Regions from separate parts of the Homo sapiens genome. Here region 1 is linked to region 2. The links come from fine-mapping of genetic effects on gene expression. A gene starts in region 2. The other region holds a variant in brackets. All regions are shown on one strand. Distances are from middle to middle.

Region 1 (5,373 bases), 52 kb before region 2:
TGAAGAGCCAACAAACAGGCATGGTGTGGTGGCTCATGCCTATAATCCCAGCATTTTGGGAGGCCAAAGTGGGAGGATGGCTTGAGTTCAGGAGTTCAAGACCAGCCTGGACAACATGGCAAGACCCCATCTCAGAAAAGGAAAAAAAAAAAAGCAAATAAAATTTTGAAAGCAAACAAACAAATAAATAAATAAAAAGATCTGGAGGAACTCCAGGACAGAATGGGCAGCTAGGTCTCCCCAAGCCTTGGAACCCAGTATGAAAAGCTCTCAGGGACTAGGGATGCAAGCTTCCTAGTCTTAATCCCTCAATTCCACCCATCCCTCCACCACATACTTTCTCACTTTGGCTTCTGTGCATATTTGCTTCATCCTTTCTTCTCTGCACAATAGATTTCTCTGTTGCCCATGAATATGGTGTAAGACAATCCACTCCACAACTCCCAAGTTCCTATATCCTCAGTTCAAATGATCTGCAGAGGCTACTGGCTTCTTTGGCTTCCAATTCCAAATTTCCAGGAGAGAGAATTTGATTGTCTCTTCCTAGTGCAACAACAGAAGTGATGTTATATGAAATAAACATGGCTTCTGGGCCCATCTCCAGGACAGAGCAGCTCTCAGAGATAGAATGTGGAACTGCAGGCTGGGCGGATGCACTCAAGGGTGTCTCCAATAGTTTTAGGCCCAGATGAATATTTTGGAGGTGGGGGAGGAAATAATGAAAGTGATCTTAGGAAGCTTCAACAGGGAGCAAAATGGGTTAGAAGGGAAAAGATCATGGAGGTGGAAGACCAAAGAGGCGCTGTCGGAATCTAAGCATTGAAAGCTTGAAATATGTGGCTATGGCTGGGTGCAGTGGCTCATGCTTGTAATCCCAGCACTTTGGGAGGTCAAGGCAGGTGGATCACTTGAGGCCAGAAGTTCGAGACCACCCTGGCCAACATGGCAAAACCCCATCTCTACTAAAAATACAAAGAAAAATAGCCAGATGTGGTGGCGGGCACCTGTAATCTCAGCTACTTGGGAGACTGAGGCAGGAGAAGAATCGCTTGAACCTGGGAGGCAGAAGCTGCAGTGAGCCGAGAGCACATCACTGTACTCCAGCCTGGGCAACAAAGAGAGACCCTGTCTAAGAAAATAAAGAAGAAGGGAAAGAAATAAGTAACTATGGTCAATCTGACCACTATTCTCTGGAAAAATACACTTGGTTCAAAAAAAAACTTCATATTTAGTCATGAAAGGGACATTTCTTATTTCATAGCTTGGAGCCAACCCTGAGCTGTTTGATTATAAATATACATATATATATATAATCATATATAGGCTACGTATATGTTGATGGTGGATTTCTCTTTATTCAGTGGTTACCCAACTTCCTGCTTTGAAGTTAGGACCTGGGATGGCCTACATTAGTAAGGGGAAGCCTATAAAATGAGGTGGGTCCCATGCTATCCTACTCTAGCTAATATACAAGGCATTATAAATTCTCATTCCCTGAAGCTGGTCAAAATTTGTTTCTTCATCTGTTGCTAGTTAACTGGATTGGTTAGCTGAGGTCACAGTCGCTGGGCTAAGCCCATGCCTAGGACACTCAGCTCCACTGTGGTTCTTGACCACAACCATATCCTCATGAGGCTCCGTATCAGGTCCAGCTATGGGTGGATTAGGAGAGGAGAAAGCAAGGCTCTACCTTGGTGTTTAGAAAAAACATTGTAAATGGTACCCCTCCTCCAACATTTTCAGCTTTCTCCTGCTACCCCTTGTGTTTATGATAATGGTACTTGGGATTATCCTCCCTGGTATTCTGATCTTTAGTGTTAGATATTGTAGCTATATCTCCTAGCCTCAGAACTTGCTTTCATTTATAATAGAATAATACGGCTACAATATCTTTTTTGTGTTTTTAACAACCCTGTTAGAATTAAACAGAAAACTCCACTCAAGTGACCTAAAACAAACAAAAAAGTCGTAAGGCCTCATATACAATATGAAGAAGTCCCAAGGTAGGGATACGAATCAGTTTGCTAGGGCTGTGATTACAAAATACCATAGACAGGGTGGCTCAAACAGTGGAAGTTAATTTTTTCACAGTTCTGGAGGCTAGAAGTCTGAGATCACGGTGTTGGCAGGTTATTTCCTCCTAAGGCCTGTCCCCTTGGCTTGTGGAAGCCACCTTCTCTGGCCATGTGCATCCCTGGTGTCTCTCTCCATGTGTCCTAAGCTCCTCTTCTTATTAGGAGACAAGTCAGATCAGATTAGGGCTCACCCAGATGACTTCATCTGACCTTAATTACCTCTGTAGAGGCCCTATCTGCAAATACAGTCATGTTTTAAGGTATTGGGGATTAGGACTTCAACATATGAATGGGGATGGGGGGGCACTGTTCCGTGTATGACAGGAAATTCTGTGGTTGGTTAATTTAGTGATTCAGTTAAATCCTCAGGCCCCAGGTGTTGCCATCTCTGCCCAGCTACCCTTACTTAACATATGGGTTTTATCCTCAGGCTAGCACCCTCATGTTTTAAAATGACTG[C/T]TGCAGTTCCAGGTACCACATCCAGACATGAGAAGGCCCAGGAGAATAAGAAACCATCTTTTTCTGTGTATCTCTCTTTACAAGCCTTTCAAAAGATTCCAGAATGCACTTCTCTTGTCTCCCTGAGCAGATCTGTTAATGTGCCCATGCCCAAACTAATCACCAGCAAGAGAAAAAGACAGCATGATTGGCTTGGGCTAATCACAATTTATCCCCTGGGTCTGGGCCAACCTCCCTAAGAGCACAGGGTTGCTTTAAGGAAGACGGGGTAGGGGCATGGTCCTGCACAAAATCAGGGTCCTATGATGAAAAAGGAAAGGGAGAAATGGAAAACAATAATGTCTTCTGCAACCATTCGCCATCTTGCTTCCCTTATAATTGTTATTCTAGGATCTGCTGGTAAAACCAATCTTTGCACCTGCAATCAAGAGCCCTGTTAATAAATATCAGCTTGCCTGGGCTGAGCCACTGAGAGTGGCAGTCTTCTCCAGCTTACGTCTTCTCTTCCCACCCCCATGGCCCCACCCCAAGTTTAGTTGCCTCTTTTGAACACAGCCAGCATCTTTTACTCAACTAGCAACCAGATCTCAGTTGCTATGCAGAAGATGTAACTACCCTTTCCCTCCCTAGCCATTTTGCAAATATGTATCATTGAGAATAAGAGGAATTGGATAAAAGAACATGGATCACTCAGTGCACACTCATCACCAAAATGAAGAAAATAACTTGAAAGCTATATCATACAAATGGTGGGTTACTAACTGGGATAGTCTTTATGTGTGTCAGTTCACAAGGGCATGTATCAATATTATTCAGAAGCTGTTTCTAAACTGAAGATAACTTTTTTAAATTTAGAAAAGCTTTCTAATTTCTCATTGGTTTCATTATTGTACTGCTTGCATCAAAAAAGGAGAATCAGATTATTGTGCTCTGTTTTCTCCCCTAGATCATCCAAGAAGAATTTAAAAATTTAATATGTGCAGTAAAAACCCATGGTCTATGTATTTTTTTTTTTTTTTTTTTTTTTGGAAACAGGGTCTCACTCTATCATCCAGTCTGGAGTGCAGTGGTGCGATCATGGCTCATTGTAGCCTCAACATCCTGGGCTCAAGTGATCCTCCCACCTCAGCCTCCCAAGTAGCTGGGAGGTGCCCGCCACCATGCATGGCTAGTTTTTGTATTTTTTGTAGAGACGGGGTTTCACCATGTTGCCCAGGCTGGTCTCAAACTCCTGGGCTCAAGCAATCTGCCCATGTTGGCCTCCCAAAGTACTGGGATTACAGGCATGAGCCACCTTGCCTGACCCACAGTCTATTTTTTGATCTTCCGTGAGTGTCTTATTCTTTAACAGTTTATTTATTTGAGTTAGAAATGGCTTTGCTTCCAAGATATAAAGGTTATTTTGTTTTGCTTTTTGATGAGCAATGTGTGAATAAATAAGACAGAGAGAAAGGTTTTTTTTCTCCAACAATTTCTATTTAATATTACTAATTCTTTAACAATATGTGCTTGGTGTGTCCCTGATCACTTATTTAATATCGCATTTCCTACCCCAGCTCTCTTTCAGTGAATGAATGCTACACTAGATGTGATTCACAACTGTAGCCTCCTGCTTTGGGCATTTGCCTCTGATAAGCATGGGCAGAGGGATGAAAGGGGCCTTTTTCTGGAATGAATTGGGTCGGGATCACAAGAAGCACTGATCATGCTCTCCTGGCTGGTGAGCCACGTGGCAAGAGAGGAGACGATAAGGGATCTGGGAACCCAGTCATGGTATTAAGCAACCAGGGAGGTTAGCCTTGAGAAAAGAAGAAATGGAAACCCTTACAACTATCATTAGCTGTTTTTAATGAAGAAAAAATAAAGCAATAACGTAACAATAATAGTAGGTAATTTTACTGAGCACTTACTAAGATGAAGTCTCCAAAAAGCTAAATTATGCCTAATCATGAAAAACAAATATAGCCATCTGAGACCCAAATGGGCTTCCTGGTAAATTACATTGCCCTCTGGCCCTGGAGCATTCAAATGCAAGCCAGCTGCTAATCTGTCAATAATGCCCCAGAAGGAGGTTGTATTGAGCCGAGATTGCACTATTGCACTCCAGCCTGGGCGACAGAGCGAGACTCCATCTCAAAAAAAAAAAAAAAAAAAAGGCTCTAGAAAGGACTGCTCTCTCTCTCTCTCTCTTTTTTTTTTTTTTTTTTTTTTTTTTTTTTTTTTTTTTTTTTTTTTTTTTGAGACAGAGTCTGGCTCTGTCGCCCAGGCTGGAGTGCAGTGGCACAATCTTGGCTCACTACAAGCTCCACCTCCCAGGTTCATGCCATTCTCCTGCCTCAGCCTCCCGAGTAGCTTGGGACTACAGGCGCCCGCCACCACGCCCGGCTAATTTTTTGTATTTTTAGTAGAGATGGGGTTTCAGCATGTTAGCCAGGATGGTCTCGATCTCCTGACCTCACTATCCGCCCTCCTCAGCCTCCCAAAGTACTGGGATTACAGGCGTGAGCCACCGCACCCAGCCCAAGACTGCTCTCTTGAAGTGGGATTTGTGCTAAATGATTTCTAACATTCCTTCTTCATGCTGAATCTATGATTCTTTAAAAGTCAGGAATGCTATTTGATTCATGGCGTTTTCTTAGGTAACATTTAATCCAATCTCCCTCACAATATGGAAACACACTCTGCAGCATCTCTGGTGCTCTGCCTCCTTGATTCATAGCACAGTAGGTGCTCCATATCCGTGGGTTCCACATCTGTGGGTTCCACATCCATAGATTCAACCAACCGCGGATAGGTAGTATTTGAAAAAACAAAACAAAAATAGATTGTTTCACCTGTA
Region 2 (5,373 bases):
AAAAAAAAAAAAATTACCGGGTGTGGTGGCCCACACCTGTAGTCCCAGCTAGTGAGGTGGGACCTGGGGGCTGAGGTGGGAGGAAAGCTTCAGCTTGGAGGTTGAGGCTGCAGTGAGCCATGATTGTGCCACTGCACTCCTGCCTGGGCACCAAAGTGAGACAAAGATAGAAAGAAGACAGAGAGAGAGAGAGAAAGGAAGGAAGGAAGGAAGGAAGGAAAAAAAGGAAAAGAAGGAAAGAGAGAAAAAAGAAAACAAAAGAAAAGAAAGATCTTGGAGGTCATGTACTTTGATGTTCCCTTCTACTAATGAGGAAAGGGGGAACAGGGGAAGTTAAAACCCTTGGTGAAGGTCAAATGGCAAGTAAGCAAAAGAAATGGGTCAGGAAACCCAGTCTCCTTGCTCTTGGTGCTCATGGCACTACATATTACACTGCTGTTACCTTGATATTTGGATAAAGGAATGCAACATACTGCTCCTCCCAAAAGGTTTTACTACTTTACACAGGTTAGCTGGTCATTTTATTTTTGCTTCTTTAACTCAACCCCTTTCACCTGGGCCTAGTTCTCATCAAAGGGTGGTATTCAATGTATCCAATGAACCCAATTAGCATTTCTAAAACGCCTGGGCAACACAACCAATAAGAAGATGCTATTGAACCTCTTACTTCCCCACTAATCCCCCTGCAGTTGGCAGAACTTAGCTGCCATGCTCAGTCTACAGACTACAAAGTTGCTTTGAGTTTCAAAAGTGGGGATCTGGAAAAGGATCTTGGCACAGCCCAAAAAAATAAGAATACTTTCACAACGATCCCTCATCCAGAGTTAGACTTGCTGACTTTAGAGGGTGGGAGTGTAAACTAAGGAGAATCATATACAAACCACCTATGGGAATCTAAGAGGTGATAGGCTGGTAGGCTCTTTGGAGGTGGCTGGGACAGAGAAAAAAGAAGAGGGACAGGACCTCTGTGAATCAAAGTCAGATGTGCCTGCCTTAGACAATCATTGTTTAATGTTGTCTAATATTTTAACTCCTTCAAAATGTCAACTGTTCCTACAGAATACACACATGTCAAATTTCCAAGACAGCATCATCTACCTGTACCATGCTCCAAATCCCATCCTCCCAGCTGCCCCTACTTGAACCAGACTGACCTGCAAAAATAGAGCAGAAAACTCACAGGCAGTAATGTTCCCCTTAAATACCCTACAATATGTCATTAACAAGAATCACGATGAAACACTATTGTAGAAATTGCCAGCATTAAACCAAAAGAATGTTGGTCAGTTCATGTTTCTTTTACAGTGTGACTTTGTTTGAGAGGGATAAAGGACAGGAAGAGGAGTGTACATCTTGCTTTAGCTGTTCCTCACTTGGCTAAGGAACTTTTGCTGTAGGAAGTGAAGACCCTGCACCTAGTTACAAGGCTTTTGATGCTTGTTTGTCAAGTTCAACTGTTAAAGGGGAGATAGGCTCTTCCCTAGTAGGGAGAGGGAGGAAGGAAAGGGGGATGGGGCGGGGGGAGGGAACAGGTAATATCTGCCATATAAATATTAGTATGTAGCTGACACGTTATAAACTGAGCTGTTAGGGTGAATTTCAATTTTGTTGGAATCGACCTTTTTTCCCTCTTAAGTTCAATTGACTTACAGTAGATCCCAGAAAGAACTCAATACGTTATTTATTCTAGAAAGCTTTCTTCCCTGAGCAAAGGAGGCAGAGCTAACGAGGAGAAGGGAGGAGCTTAGGTGAACAGAACTGAAGTCACAGCTGGTTAGCATGACTAGAATGCATGGAAAAGCCAGCCCAAATTAGATGAGTGGGTAGATAGAGAGCTTTGAAATCCTTGGAATTAATGGTGGAGTCCATCGTAATTGAAAGGTCGGGCCTTAGTGGGCTGGGATAGGGAGAGAAGCTGTCGGGGACCTGGGGCAGTGAGCCTGTACCCCGTGGCTTCTCACACACTATTTTGAAGGCGTTCCCATGCGCAATCTCGCCTGTCAGTTCAGGCTGTAGGTTTCTCCTTTCTAACTCCTGAGCAGAACAACACTGAACGGTGGTAGTCTTGCCTTGCCACCCAATGAGTGCTAGAAAACAGTCACTTCAACCAATTGGTTCAGTCCGGAGAACGTGAGCACATTCTACTTTACTTTCTGTTCAATGATTTTGGAAAACAACCTTTTAGATTCTGGTCAGAAGGGGCTTGGATCCGTGACTTTGAAACACTCGCCACTACCACAAACGACTTTGGAAGTTAATCAGAAATAAACAGTATCTGGGATCTCATCCGTCCTAAACCCAGGGGTCAGAGCGTGGGGGGCTTCCACTAACTTCAGGTTAAGAGGATGAAACAGATCCGCGGAGAAGGGTCCCACGATCCCTGGAGACTAAAAGCAAGCCACGAACAGCCGGGACGCGCGGGCCGGGGAGATGCGCCGGGGGCTGGAGGGCGGAGAGCACCCCCCGCAGGTCCCGGCCAGAGCCCGGGGCCGGGTCACCTGACTCGCGGAATTTGGGGCCGCGAGGGGTGGAATGGGAGGGGAATGGTTAGCGCCTCCCTTCCCGCTCCCACTGGATCCAGGTCGGCGGGGGCCGGCGCCCGGCGGCCACGTGGTGGTGCTGCCGCTGCCCCCGCCCCGCCGGCCTAGCCCGGGAGCTCGGCGCCCACTGACCCCCGCAGCGGGGGAGGAGGAGGGACTGCGGCGCAGGAAGCCGAGCAGGAAGCGAGCCCGGCGGCCGCGTTTTCCTGGGGAAGCGGCGGGCGGGGTGGAGCAGCCAGCTGGGTCCGGGGAGCGCCGCCGCCGCCTCGATGGGGTGAGTGCGCGGCACGGAGTTGGGAGGCTCCCGGCGCGGGGTCCCGGGCTCGTGTCCCCGCCTTTGTGTCTGGAGCTCGGGCGCGGGAGGCGCTGGGGACGGCGCCCGGGCGGAGCGGCTGAGCGGGCTGCAGCCGGGGTCCCGCCACCTCTCCCTGGTCCACCGCCGGCAGCCCACTGTCTGCGGAGAGCAGATCTGGGGACAAGAGGAAGGAGAGGAAGGTGGAGATGAGGGTAGAGCGGGAAGACCCGGCCAAGTTAGGAGAAGGGTTCTTCCCGGGTCCTCCGCGACTCGCAGGCCGGCTGGGGCGGGGCGCGGGGCAGGGGCCGCGGCGGAGGGAGCGCGGGTGGGAATGAATGAGCAGACCCGGAGATGCACCCTGGAGTCTGCGCCGGGTCCCACCTGTTTCGCCCCGCGCGGCGCCTCGCTGCCCCCGCGTCGGTGCTGCTGAGCCCAATCCGCCTCCCGGCTGAACTTGGAGGAGGTGGGGAGGGAGGTGCGAGCGGGAGACTCCGGGTGGCTCCCAGGACGCGGGGTCCGCTATTGTTCCTCCTCTGACTCCAGGGAGCCCCTCGGCCGGCCCAAGGGCGGGGGCGAGACCCCTCTGGGCCTGCCCCTGCCCCCTACCTTGTTTTCCCCGCCGCAGCTCGGGGAGAACGGATGCTGGAGTTGGGGCAGACTCGGGGCCGCCGGGACTTCGGGAGTAAGGAGGACGTGGAGCCACCAGAAAGGCGCCCGCCATCTCCCGCGACCCCTGCCTGGTGGGGGGTGGGGGGTGGGGTGTCGTCCTCAACCACCTTCGCTGCCTTCTTGGGCAGGTTGGTGTCGGTTTAGTTTCTGCGGTTTGCAGGGTTGACATCCTAACTCCTTTGAGTTTCGCATCCCCCTTTTGTGGAGGGGGCTCAGAGCCTGGAGAAGCAACAGACGGGGAATTAAGGCAGATGCAGCCCAGCACAGCGTGGAGGGGTCCGAAGTGGCCTCACGGGGGCCTGAGCATGGCTGTCTTTCCAGGCTCCTCTTTATTTGCCAGGAGCCCAGCTAAGCCCAACTTTACTCCCAGAAATGTTGAGGGGAATCTGCGGACTCGAGGCCCCTCGCCTCGGGACCAGCGGCTTCTCTTCGCCGCAGCTCACGCATGATCGGGGTGGGATTCCGTCTTCCTTCCGGGAGAGGAGAATGCCCAGCTGCCTGGGATGGGGAAACGTTGCCGGATCTCTGGGGAATGTGGTCTCAAGGCTGCAGGGGCCTGGCAGAGAGGAACTGTCCATCACTAGGACATAGCCGAAGCTCGCCTTAGCGAAGAGAGTCTCACCTCCTCGGGCTTTGCACAGAGTTGGAGAAGAGGTCGGGAATCACAGGGAGGCTGGATTTTGGCTGCTCTGTCCCCAGCCTGCAGGTCCCTGTTCGCCCTGTGGCTCGGAATTTTATTACTGATGTATATAATCTGATAATCTTTTCTTAATGATGCCTAACAAGTGTGATTTTTTTCCCCCTTGGGTTTGTAAGACAGTTGATTTTATGTGAGGAGATTGATCCAGTTCTTATATTTTAGCCAGTGCTTGTCTAACAGAGATTGGGAGAGCTATCCCGTGCTGGGCTGTTGCACAGTTTTCATCTCCATTCACTGAGATGCTTCAGTAATGAATTTATTGTTTTATGGCTTTTTGGAGATGGTGGTGGTGGTGGTGTGATTATAACCCTGCTGGAAAATCTTATTACTGTTATCTGAATTGAAGAGACAGAAAGGATGCTGAGCCCCCTAGGGATTCCGTAGGGGAATGATGTAGTGTCCCGCCCACCAGTAGTGAACCTGACAGTGAAATTCTCTCTCCAGTCTGCTAGTTTTCAAAGCATGTTCTAGGCAGGTACACGTACTATCACCTAGGCTTTAAAAGTGAAGAAGCAGATTTGGAGGTTAAGAACAACTGGGCCTTGGAATTAATAGAATGCAGTGGACAACTTTTGCCTCTCCTTCCTCCACCCCCTCCCTCCCTTCCTTCTTTCCTTTTTTTTCATCCTTTAAAAATAAAAATAAGGGCCAGGCATGGTGCTTATGCCTGTAATCCCAGCACTTTGGGAGGCCGAGGCAGGCGGATCATGAGGTCAGGAGATCGAGACCATCCTGGCCAACACAGTGAAACCCCGTCTCTACTAAAAATACAAAAAATAAAAATTAGCTGGGCGTGGTGGCACGCACTTGTAATCCCAGCTACTTGAGAGGCTGAGGCAGGAGAATCGCTTGAACCCGGGAGGTGGAGGTTGCAGTGAGCTGGGATTGCGCCACTGCACTCCAACCTGGCGACAGAGCAAGACTCTGTCTCAAATAAATAAATAAATAAATAAGTATGAAATATTTCTAACATACATAAAAACAGAGTATAGTAAGCCATTTTGTCTTCTACTTCCTAGGTTTAATAGTTGCTAATATTTTCATATTTGATCCATACCTCTCCCCCCCCGGAAAAATAAACTATAACTTAAATATTTGATCTATTCCTACTCCTTTGCCTCCATCCTCAGGTAACCTCTAATGTGAAGTTAGCGCACACAGTTCTCAAG

Evidence for each region. PIP is the estimated chance that this variant, and not a neighbour inherited with it, causes the effect.
Region 1: its variant is fine-mapped to the expression of RAI14 in cerebellum (GTEx, PIP 0.91).

Annotation. Positions count from the first base shown.
Region 1 is chr5:34,601,997-34,607,369 of GRCh38, forward strand. No RefSeq gene overlaps it. Among named protein-coding and RNA genes, the nearest start is that of RAI14-DT, 51 kb to the right of the region's middle. The variant C/T (reference allele first, on the strand shown) is at 2,535.
Region 2 is chr5:34,653,662-34,659,034 of GRCh38, forward strand. RAI14 (retinoic acid induced 14) reads left to right here and starts at 2,667. Exons shown (of 18, transcript NM_015577.3): 1 at 2,667-2,814. RAI14-DT (RAI14 divergent transcript) reads right to left here and starts at 2,512. Exons shown (of 3, transcript NR_183264.1): 1 at 2,332-2,512. RefSeq lists a silencer at 2,625-2,674.